Linked DNA regions of Homo sapiens: region 2 is linked to region 1. The links come from fine-mapping of genetic effects on gene expression. A gene starts in region 1. The other region holds a variant in brackets. All regions are shown on one strand. Distances are between the middles of the regions. Region 1 holds the start of IKBKE (inhibitor of nuclear factor kappa B kinase subunit epsilon). Region 2 holds the start of IKBKE-AS1 (IKBKE antisense RNA 1).

Region 1 (5,367 bases):
GGCGTTGGGGAGAAGGGTGTGGGTGTGTGTGTGAGAGCAGGGTATAGGGGAGGCAAAATTCATCATTCAGCCATTGGGAGAATCTGAAACCCCCTACAACTCTGTTTCCCATCTTTGTCCTCATCTTTTCCCCAAAGCCTAGTTCTCCTAAAGCAATTAGTACCAGAAAGTGTATCCTCAGAAGTTAAACTCAATTTCTCTTTGAAAAATAAGGCCAGTGCTGGCCTTTTTGGGATACCTGGGGACAGAAGCATTAGAAGGGCCACCATCCTTTAAATACTTTCTTTTTCCTTTTTCTTTTTTTTATTTTGACGTAAGGTCTCACTCTGTCATCCAGGCTGGGGTGCAGTGGTACAATCATGACTCACTGCAACCTCCACCCCCTGGGCTCAAGCAATCCTCCCAACTCAGCCTCCTGAGGAGCTTAGGACCATAGGTGTGCACCACCACACCTGGCTGTCTTTTGTATTTTTAGTAGAGATGGGTTTTTGCCATGTTGCCCAGGCTGGTCTTGAACTCCTGAGCTCAGGCAATCCGGCCACATGGGCTTCCCCAAAAAATTGCTGGGATTACAGGTGTGAGCCACCATGCCTGGCCACTTAAATACTTTTAAATAACGCTAGACTAGAAAAGGCATCTTCGTGTTCTAACATCTTACAGGTTCTCAAACTGAGGGTTGCCATGCCTGGAATCCTATGTTCCTTCGCTCTGAACTTTTTCTCTGTGTAATCTTTTTTAAAAATGCAAATCCTTGATAATGTCATTTCATTGAGCCAGAGGCCCCTTGAAGAGATCGGTGGTCAACTCCTAGTTTCAGATCAGGTAGGAGCGGACATTACACAGAAGCAACTGAGGTACTGAGAGGCTTCCTGAAGACAACACAGTAGCTCAGCATGAATGAGTGGGTCTGGTTTTCCCCGCTGAGGCTGGAGGCAGCCAGCAGGTCTGGGGGCTGGGGCTGGGGTTGGAGCACAGCAGGCTGAAATCAAGGCCAAGGGCTCTGATACTGGGGCAAGGAACAGCTCAGGACTCTGGGATAATAGGCAGTGAGGTGCAAAGCGCAGACCCCCAGACAAGCGGTGTGCCCCTGGATTCTGTGCCCGGGAGCTCTGGTTGTGGCACATCTGGCTTAACTCTGCACGCTCTGCAGATCCTCCCCCCACCACCCCAAGCACCTGGTGCAAAGAAGGGCTCAGTGGCCCTCAGCCAGTGGTTGGATGAATGAGCAGTGGACAGTGAAGCATGTGAGACACCACCCACCCACCTCTCCCCTCCCCTCCCTCCTCAGGGCTCTGCTGTGGCCAAGTGCACTTACCCCACACTCTGAGCTGCCCTGAGTCAGGCAAAGGCTCTTCCTGGCGAGTGTATGTTATGCTTTCTGTCTGTGGCACGTCCAGGAGCTGAGCTACACCGGAAAGAGGAGGGCGGATGAGAGGCGCCCCTCAGTGCAGTTGCTTCTCAGCCTCCATCAAAGGCCGCCGGCCCTAGCCCTTTAACCCTTTCCTGTTTGTCACCTTCCCCCACAGGGCTGGGCTGGGGGTTTCCAGCTCTATTCCCAAACTGTTCAGGGAGCCTTTCCCAGCGTCTCCTACTCCTGAGACTCCGGCCAGGGAGAAAGACCCCGGGAAAGGTGAGGGCAGGCGCTGGGTGCTGATCGCTGGCTTTGGGTGTTGGTAAGCAGAGCCCAGGGAGGGCTTGTGGTTGGCCCGTGGTGGCTCACCTCCATGCCACACACAACGCTCTATGTGAGAGCACCGCTGCCAACAAGCCCACACCCCTGCACCCGGCTGAGCTGCCCTGCAGCTGCCCCTTGTCTGGCCCCTCATTCCACCCCCACCCCCCTCCGCACGCTGCACACTCACCCCATCTCCACTGCAGGGGATGCAGGCTTGTGGGACTGGGTGACACCCCCAGAGCTTTCAGGGCTCACTGTCATTCATGAGCAGTGTTCTTAGCCTCCTGGTAGCCAAGGGCCCCTAGGACCCACAGGCAGGGCCAGTTGCAATGTCTGTGCCACCCCAGGAGCTGGGACTAGTGGGTTTCTTCCCTGCCTCCTTGTGGCGGTGGGACACCAAGCTCAGCACTGAGTCCTGGCTCTCAGCTCTCTCGCACTTCCTGATTTCCGTCTCTCGCTCTCTCTTTCTCTCTTAAAGAGACAGAGGCAACTCGGTGCAGCCACCAGCTCAGCAGAAAAGAGAAAGAGGATGCTCTGAGTTCCCAAGGGTAGGCAATAGGACCAGAGTGTGAGCCACAGAGAAGCCAGGAACTGGGGCCCTTCTGGTAATCTTGATGGGCAGCTGGGTGCTGTTTTGGCATCTCCCACAGTTCACTGGAGCAGGGAAGTTCAGGGCTCTTCCCAGAGTCAACAGAGCAGGTTGGGCAAGTTAACTAAGTGGAAAGCTGCCTGGGAAGTCCATGCTCCCACACCCAGGAACCCCAAGGAAGTGTGGGAGCTATGCCGATCCAGTCCTAGAAGTTGGATCTGAGTCACCTTCCCAGGAGGCCTGCAGAGGTCCGAGAGCAAGCGCGGGGACCCAGCTGATGCCTTCCAGTGTGACCTGAGCACACAGCATGCAGCCCCTCCCAGCCAGCTCACTCACCCGCAGAGTAACAGCTACTCTGTGGGTTGATTGGATGACATGGATATATTTGGAATTGTTTGGGAGCTTGGAAAGCATTTTACAGAAAGGCATTGAAGGCATGGAGGCCCACACACTTCAGTAATTTACCCATGCTCTTCAGAGACTGCTGGGGCTGGCACCCAGGTGCCAACTTCCCAGCCAGGACTCGATGCCCCACATCAAATGTCCTAGGAGGCTGGAGGGGTCTGTCCTGCTCTGGTCAGCTCAGAGATGGCAGTTGGATATGAAATGGTTAAAACCAGGAAATTCCATGTTTCTATAGAATGTTGGAGGGACTTTCCCATGGCCACACCTGGTGGTTTCCTCCGCCAGCCCCACCCCTCCCACAGTGACACTAGAACAGGAGCAGAGCTGAGAACTGCCTAGTGCTCAGATAAAGAGAACTCCCCATAACACCTCCAGCTGGAGGAGTTGCTGCAACTTCTCACATCAGGACCAGGAGGAATGTGCCTGAGTGCCTGAGATCCTCATGTTCCACCCAGTCTTCCCAGCTTGCTTTTTTTTTTTGAGATGGAGTCTCACTCTGTCACCCAGGCTGGAGTGCAGTGGCATGATGTTAGCTCACTGCAACCTCCACCTCCTGGGTTCAAGTGATTCTTCTGCCTCAGCCTCCCAAGTATCTGGGACTACAGGCATGCACCACCATGCCCGGCTAACTTTTTGTATTTTTAGTAGAGATGGGGTTTCACTGTGTGGTTGGTGAGGTGGATTGAACAGGTTGGACTTGATCTCCCAACCTCCTGATCCACCTGCCTCAGCCTCCCAAAGTGCCGGGATTACAGGCGTGAGCCAGTGGCTAATTTTTTGTATTTTTAGTAGAGATGGGGTTTCACTGTGTGGTTGGTGAGGTGGATTGAGCAGGTTGGTCTAGATCTCCCAACCTCCTGATCCACCTGCCTCAGTCTCCCAAAGTGCCGGGATTACAGGCGTGAGCCACTGCACCCAGCCTAGTCTTCCCAGGTTTCTGCCTGCCTGGCACATGGGAGAACTGCACATCCTAGTTACTTTGTGATAGGGGGAGCATGTGAGTTCCCCACCAAAGCATTTATTTCCTGATGCAAGACCCTCCCAGAACTCTGCTTTCTGGCAGTGTGATTCTGTTAGTCTGGGTCCTTGAGTGACTGTCCTGAGCAGAGTTCCCCTGCTGGTCCACAAGGGACATTGGCTTTGGTGAGAAATCAGCCTTTGTTGCTTTAGGGCACCGAGGTTTGCTACATAACTTAGACAATCCGTAATGTTTACCCACTTTTTTCCCTGATGAACCTGCTGGGTCCTCACCAGCACTCTTACTTTCCTCTCTCCGTCAATCTCTTTCCCAGCATATTTAGCACATTCAAAGGAAACTACCATGTGTCTAGCACCTGCTATGAGGCAGGCACTGTGTGCTCAGGATGTAAAGGTGGGCATCCCATCAGGAGCCTGGAGGTCCAGGATGGCATGGCAGATGCTATGAGTGGCAGACGCGCAGCGGGGAGGAAGGTGATCAAGAAGGGCTTTCCAGAAGGGTTGCTTGGCCAGACTTTAGGAAAAGGGGAGTTGGGCAGAGGAGAGGGGGCTGGGGGAATGGAATTCCAGGCTGTGGGCACATGTGCAGAGGCACAGAAGCATGAGAAGAGCCGGACTGAGGCTGTGAAAAGGGAGAGAGGTAGAGGTGGCCTGGAGCCATGTGCCGTGACAGATCAAGTTTCCTTGCGCATCCTCTGTGAGGTCACATCCTCTGTGTGGACACAGTGAAGCAATGTCTTGCCTGTGCCCCAGCCGGGCAGCACAGCCGGTTGCATCCGAGAAGGTGCAGGGGGCTGGCGGGCTCCAGAAGGGAAGAGGAAGTCTGTAAGAGTCCCCACCACGTGTTCCCAAGTGGCTCTGAGGAGTCCTAGAAATAGAAGTGGCAATCCAAGGGTAGTGCAAGGACCAGAGGTGGAAGAGGGCGGCCCTTGACAGCAGCTGTCAGAAAGAAAATCTCATGTGACTTCTACAAAGAGGCTGAAAGTATAGTAAGAAGGGCAGGGGCTAGCTCCATTGCCATGGAGGTTTGAGTTCAGATTTTACCACCTACTGTGGATGACCCTAGCACGTCACTCGACGTTTCTCATAGGGCTGGTTTGAAAGTAAAATGAGATGAAGCTCCTGGCACCTGGTCTGCTCTGAAAAGATATTAATTTCTTTTTCCACCTCTAAGGGGCCTGAGCCAGTTTTTCACAACTGACTCGCCGGCCCAGTGCCTTAAAGGGGAGGGGAAAGGACTCGGGTGCTGGTTGGGGTGCATATGGAAGAGGCTGGGGGGCATTGCCAGGCCATACGTTTTTGCTGTGCTCAGTCACAAGGGCAAAGGGCTGAGGGACGAGGTCTCAGAGCCCAGCTCTTTGTCACCTTCAGGGGTCAGCTCTGGCTAGGAGCTTTGGGTGCAGAAGGAGGGACAAACACTGCAGCCAATCTTGCTGCTATGGCCCCAAGCAGTGGGACAAGCTGTGAGGCAGCATCCAGGCCACTGAAGGAAATCGGCGCCGGTGCCAGCGTCGTCTCTCTTCGAGGAAAAGCAAGTGTTTCTCTCATTGTCTTCACTCTTCAAACCTCCTCTGCACTGTTCCCTCCTACACTGTCAGCTAAGGACCTTGCCTTAAACTTCGCTTAGATAAAAGAAGCAATCAGAAGGGAACCCCCTCATTTCCTCCCCCACATCCACTGCCTGCCCTGTGTCTGTACTCACCTGCCTTCCCTCCCACGC
Region 2 (5,300 bases), 27 kb before region 1:
ATCCGGGAGGCAGAGGTTGCGGTGAGCCGAGATAGTGCCATTGCACTCCAGCCTGGGCAACAAGAGCAAAACTGCGTCTCACATAATAACAATAATAATAATAATATTGAGTTTTAGGCACTTTATGCACATAGCTAATCTATTCCTACCCACAACTTTCCACTCACCACACGGGCACCGAGGAGTAGTATCTTTAAAATACCAGTTGGACTTGACCTAAAACCTCTCTGTGGTCCTCTGGGGTAAAGTCCAAGTTCCTCAGTGTGGCCTGCAAGGACCTTTTGGACTGGCTCCTCCCTTTCCACAATACCAGCATCCTACTTTAACCTACTCTCCAGTCATATAGAAATACTAGTAGCTCTTCCCATGCCTGTGCCACTGCTGCTCCCACGGCCAGGAATGCCTCCCACACCTTCTTTGCTAGGTATCACCTGCTCACCTGCTAAGACCACTTTGGATTCACCTGTTCTCAGTCACTCCCTGACACTTAGGAAGTTTCCCAGCCTGACCTAAGCACCCTCCCCTGTGAGGATGGTGACTCAGGACCACACTGGATGTTTGCATTCCTAGCATAGCACCTCCTCCATGATGGGAAGCTATCTGTGGCATACCTGTCTTCCCCCATAGAGGTGAGCTCCCCATGAGCCAGAAAGGTGGCTTAGTCACCTCTGTAGTTCCAGCATCCCGTGGGCCTGGTACACTGTAAGGGCTCAGATCATGTCTGGTGAACTGAATGGGCTCTTTTCATTTTAAGTGTTATGTTAGGAATCACTGCAGAGAATGGAGAGGTACATTAAAGAGGTCTTCAGACACCTGAGGATCTTATGGGTTGTTCTGGGTCTTGGTCCAGTTCCTCATTTCCTACTGAGATGGAATCAGCAGCTCTGCAGAACCTCAGATCCAGGGAGGCACTGATGTCAGCAGCTCTGCCTTGCATAGAAATGAACTGAAGCCACTGGGCGTGGTGGCTCACGCCTGTAATCCTAACACTTTGGGAGGCCAAGAAAGGAGGGTTGCTTGAGCTCAGGAGTTCAAGACCAGCTTGTGCAACATAGTGAGACCTCATCTCTACAAAAAATATAAAATTAGCTGGGTGTGGTGGTGCACGCCTGTAGTCCCAGCTACTTGGAAGGCTGAGGCAGGAGGATTGCTTGGTCCTACAGTGAGTAGTAGTGGTGATCGCTTGATCACTACAGTGAGTCGAGGCTGTAGTGAGCCAAGATTATACCATTCCACTGCAACCTGGGCAACAGAGCAAAACCCTGCCAAAAAAAAAAAAAGAAGGAAAATTAAAAAAAAAAAACAACTGAACTGAAGCCTTTGAGTGAGTTTGTCCGCCACATCTCATAGGCTTTGCTCATGAGATCATACAGCCTGGATCATATCATCTCCCAAAAATCTGTATTTGGCATTCAGGGATCCCCTGGCTCCTTCACTGAGCTCCACCAAGCACATGGGGTTTTGCAAGCTGTTGCTGCCAGGGAAAACCCATTGTGGGACTTCCCTGAAGGGCCACTCATGGGCTGGAAGTGTTGGCCAGAAATTCAGGCCAGCAGAGTGGACGAGAGGTGGTCTAGTACCCAGGAACATCAAGGCGGCAGCTGGTCTCTGAGGCCCCAGGACTTGAACCCCTGGGCTTAAGTGACTCCACGGGCTTGAGGCCCAAATAACAAACACAAAGCCACTTGGACCTGATGCAAGGAAACAACCTCCAGCCACCTTCCCCCAGGCCTTTAGAGTGCTGGTCTTTGCACAGAGAAGCACCACAGAGGACAGAAGCCTCCAGGACTCACCCTTCCCCATTTCTGGCCCTACCAGGTGAGTAGAGTGGCCTCAGGATGTGGGGGCTCCCATGAAGATGGACAGGAAGGATCTCTGGGGTTATTTCCAGTCAAGCATAATGCTGTCTTCACGCTTCGAAGCACACAGTGGGGCTTCCCACTCGTCTCTCTCTCCTACTGGGGCTACCTTACTGCATTTCCCCTTCCCCTTCCTTCACCCACCCAGGTAGGTGGGTAGTCCAGCTCTGGTTTATGGGAAGGCTGGAGGTAAATTTGCAAGCAGTTTGCAAAAGTCAGAATGCCTTGCCCAGGCACCACTCTAGATTCTAGACAAAATGAAGGAATGCTTAAAATAACCCATAATACTATTCAAACCCACTATTTAGGACATAGCCTAGGTTTTGAATAGCTGTGGAGATGGGAAAAAAGCAGTAGCCACTTAGATGGTGGGTTTGAAGGAAAAAAAAAAAGAAGAATACCTTTCTCCCTAAGTTCCAGGCCCCTCACACAGCTTTCCAAATGATGCGGGGGCAAGAGAATGGAAGGAATGGGAAGGCACCCCTTGGGTTCTTCCTTGAAATTAGGGCCCATTTAGGGGAAAGGCAGAAATCAGGACATGACCAATTCCCACCCCCATTTCCCAGCACTTCTCACAGATCCCCGCCCAGACCCCACTTGGTTGCCAAGCACACCCAGCTGAGAGCCCTGCCTTGCAGACACAGCCCAGGGAGAGCCACCAGAAACAGAAGCAAAGGCCACATTTATTCCACTTCTTGAAGGTGCAGGCCTTGGACCTGCCCAGACTCACAGTCCTGGCTGCATGTCCCAGGACCAGCTGGAGCCTCAGAGAGTGAGGGAGAGCCAAAGGGGCCCCAAGACACTGGCACTGGCCTTGGCCACCCATTTTCTCAACTTTAGGCTCAGTCAGACCAAGCATAGAAAGAACAGGAGGCTCTCTATGTTGCCTGAGGCTGGCAGTGGTGACCCTCAGAAATCACAAGGGAGCGGAGAGAGCTGTGTTCAACATGAAACGCTTGAAGAGGAAGGAAGACTGTGATGAGGTCGTTTGACCTACTGCCCTGGGGAAACCCCAGGAGGCCTCCTCTCCTGTTGGCTAGGGAGTGAAGTCCTATAAACCAGAGGGAGTGGGAAGGCGTATGAGAGCTTCTTCTCCCCACGGCCCAGCCATGGGCATGGAGGAGCAGTACCTGAGCCTAGAGAAGATAGAAAGGTCAGCCAGGCAGTTGCTGCCACACTCTTTCCTGTGGGTCCCAACAGAGGTGGCCTGGTGCCCAGTCTCAGCTGTGCTGCTTCCCAGGGAGAAAGGCAGTGGAAGGTAATGCTGGCGACATCCTGGCCAGCAGCCAGGAGGGAGGTAGGCTGATGTGATGGGATGGGATCTTGCCCTGGGTTGGTCTCATGGTGCAGAAGAGCAGTGTTGGAATCATTCTAATGCTTCAGGATGCCTCATGTGCCCCATGGAGCTCAGACATCAGGA[G/A]GTGCTGGGACTCTATTTAGCCTACAAGAAAAGGTACAGGCTAGCAGTGCCCACCTGTTGGAGAGGCCTGCAGACCACACTCCAGGGCCCAGCACAATTAGCTTTCAAGAACACTGAGCCATTCAAGTCCTCAGCTCTCCCCTTGTAGCACCCTCACTCCCCGACAAGAACCCACTGGCTCTCGCCTCTGACTATATGTTGGAATCACTTGGAAAGCTCATGCAAATCCTAACCACAAGCTGTACCCAGAGTCTCTGGGGCAAGACCCAGGCATTTGTACGTTTAAAAGCTCCCCTGGTGATTCCAGTGTGTAGCCAAGGTTTAGGAGGGGAAAGGAGTTTAAATGGATTCATTTGGCTCTTTGGCTACAGCTCTGAATAAGGAAGTGAAAATTCACTAAAATAAAGTTTTGAGCTATCTGCAAATAGATGACATATCACAGCAAGAGCAATTTTTGTTGGCACTAAAATTAGAACTTCCTGACCAAGAGGGCTGTTTTGGAAAATCCTTCCAAGAAGCTGTCAAATGTCCTCTTTGTGGGTGTTTAAGAGGATGAGTTCTCTTGCTGGAACAGGACAGGGAGGAGATTCCTCCCTTACCCAAGGACCCTCTGAAACTCTGGGGACAAACCACAAGCTCTGCTCCTGGTTTCCCTACCTCCTGGCCCCAATTCTAGTGTGAGACTGGAGTGGCCTCTGGGGAAGAAGTAACATTTAGTGAGCCCTTCCCTCCACACCCCCCTATGCGCAAGCACCTTGCATATCTCATTTTTTTAAATCCCTATGTCAACACCATGAGGTAGAAATTATTACTCCTGTTTCACAGGGGAGGGAACTGAAGCTCAAAGCTGAACACACCTCCCAGGGTCACGCAGTTGGTAAAAAGCAGGGTCAGGATTGAAATCCTGTAGGAACCTCTGCTGACTCTACCCTGCCATTGGTTCTCAGACAGGAAAATGACAGACACGAGGATGACAGGCAGGAGTGGGAGATGCGTGCACGTGTGTACATGTATATAAACAGGGCCGCTGGCCTTCAGGGCAAGCAAGGACCATCCTTTATCCTGAGGTTATCTCTCTTTGGTGGTAAAATGTGTTTTATAAAGTAGGGTTACTAGATGACAGGGCTTTTTTTTTTTTTTTTTTTTACTTCAAATGTGCTTACTTGGTTATGTGAGCAGCTGGTAACTCTGTTGTTCTCGAGTTTTCTTTTAGAACTATACTGGTACGTAGCCGGGCGCAGTGGTTCATGTCTGTAATCCCAGCACTTTGGGAGGCCAAGGCAGGCAGATCATCTGAGACCAGGAGTTTGAGACCAGCCTGGCCAAGATGGTGAAACCCTGTCTCTACTAAAAATATAAAAATTAACTGCGTGTGGTGGTGGACACCTGTAATCCTGGCTACTCAGGAGGCTGAGGCAGGAGAATTGCTTGAACCCAGGAGATGGAGGTTGCAGTGAGCCGACACAGTACCACTGCACTCCAGCCTGGGTGACAGAGTGAGACTCCGTCTCAAAAAAAAAAAAAAAAAAAAAAAAAAAAAGAAAGAACTTTTACTGGTATGCAAAATCTCAATCTCAGAGTCGGAGCCCTGTTGCGTTCCCACACCAACCTCTCATGACCCCTCAGCACCCCAAGGAGGGGAGTCAAATCAGGAGATGATCCTGCAGCCCCGGGCTGGCCCATGAGCATTGGCAGGAGGGACGGGAGCCCCACAAGGCCAGAGAAACACCGGCCTTGGGCATCGTATCCAAGGTGTCTGCGCTGTGGCTTCCTGGGGTAGCACATGGGGATGAAAACAGCACCTATCCTGAGGATGGCTGTGATTCAAGGAGGCATCTGGGGCAGCTTGAGCACAGAGTACATATGGAGTGCAGAGCTGGACACAGGCACAAACCCCATGCCTCCAGGCCCCCATCTCCCTGACAGCATGGAGGCTCACATTTTAAAGGCTGTAAGTGAACCCTACACCTCCTGAGGATGTCAACTCATTTGTGGAAAATGCCTAAGCTTCAACAGGGCTT

What was found. PIP is the estimated chance that this variant, and not a neighbour inherited with it, causes the effect.
Region 2: its variant is fine-mapped to the expression of IKBKE in whole blood (TOPMed, PIP above 0.99).

What each region holds. Positions count from the first base shown.
Region 1 is chr1:206,467,194-206,472,560 of GRCh38, reverse strand. IKBKE (inhibitor of nuclear factor kappa B kinase subunit epsilon) reads right to left here and starts at 2,085. Exons shown (of 22, transcript NM_014002.4): 1 at 1,863-2,085; 2 at 1,316-1,405. RefSeq lists enhancers at 2,709-3,018, 2,538-3,175, 3,850-4,713, 4,714-5,367.
Region 2 is chr1:206,494,112-206,499,411 of GRCh38, reverse strand. It overlaps IKBKE (inhibitor of nuclear factor kappa B kinase subunit epsilon), which reads right to left. Exons shown (of 22, transcript NM_014002.4): 22 at 2,523-3,300. The coding sequence ends at 3,267. It overlaps IKBKE-AS1 (IKBKE antisense RNA 1), which reads left to right and starts at 1,684. Exons shown (of 2, transcript NR_172918.1): 1 at 1,684-1,818. RefSeq lists an enhancer at 1,590-1,739. The variant G/A (reference allele first, on the strand shown) is at 3,280.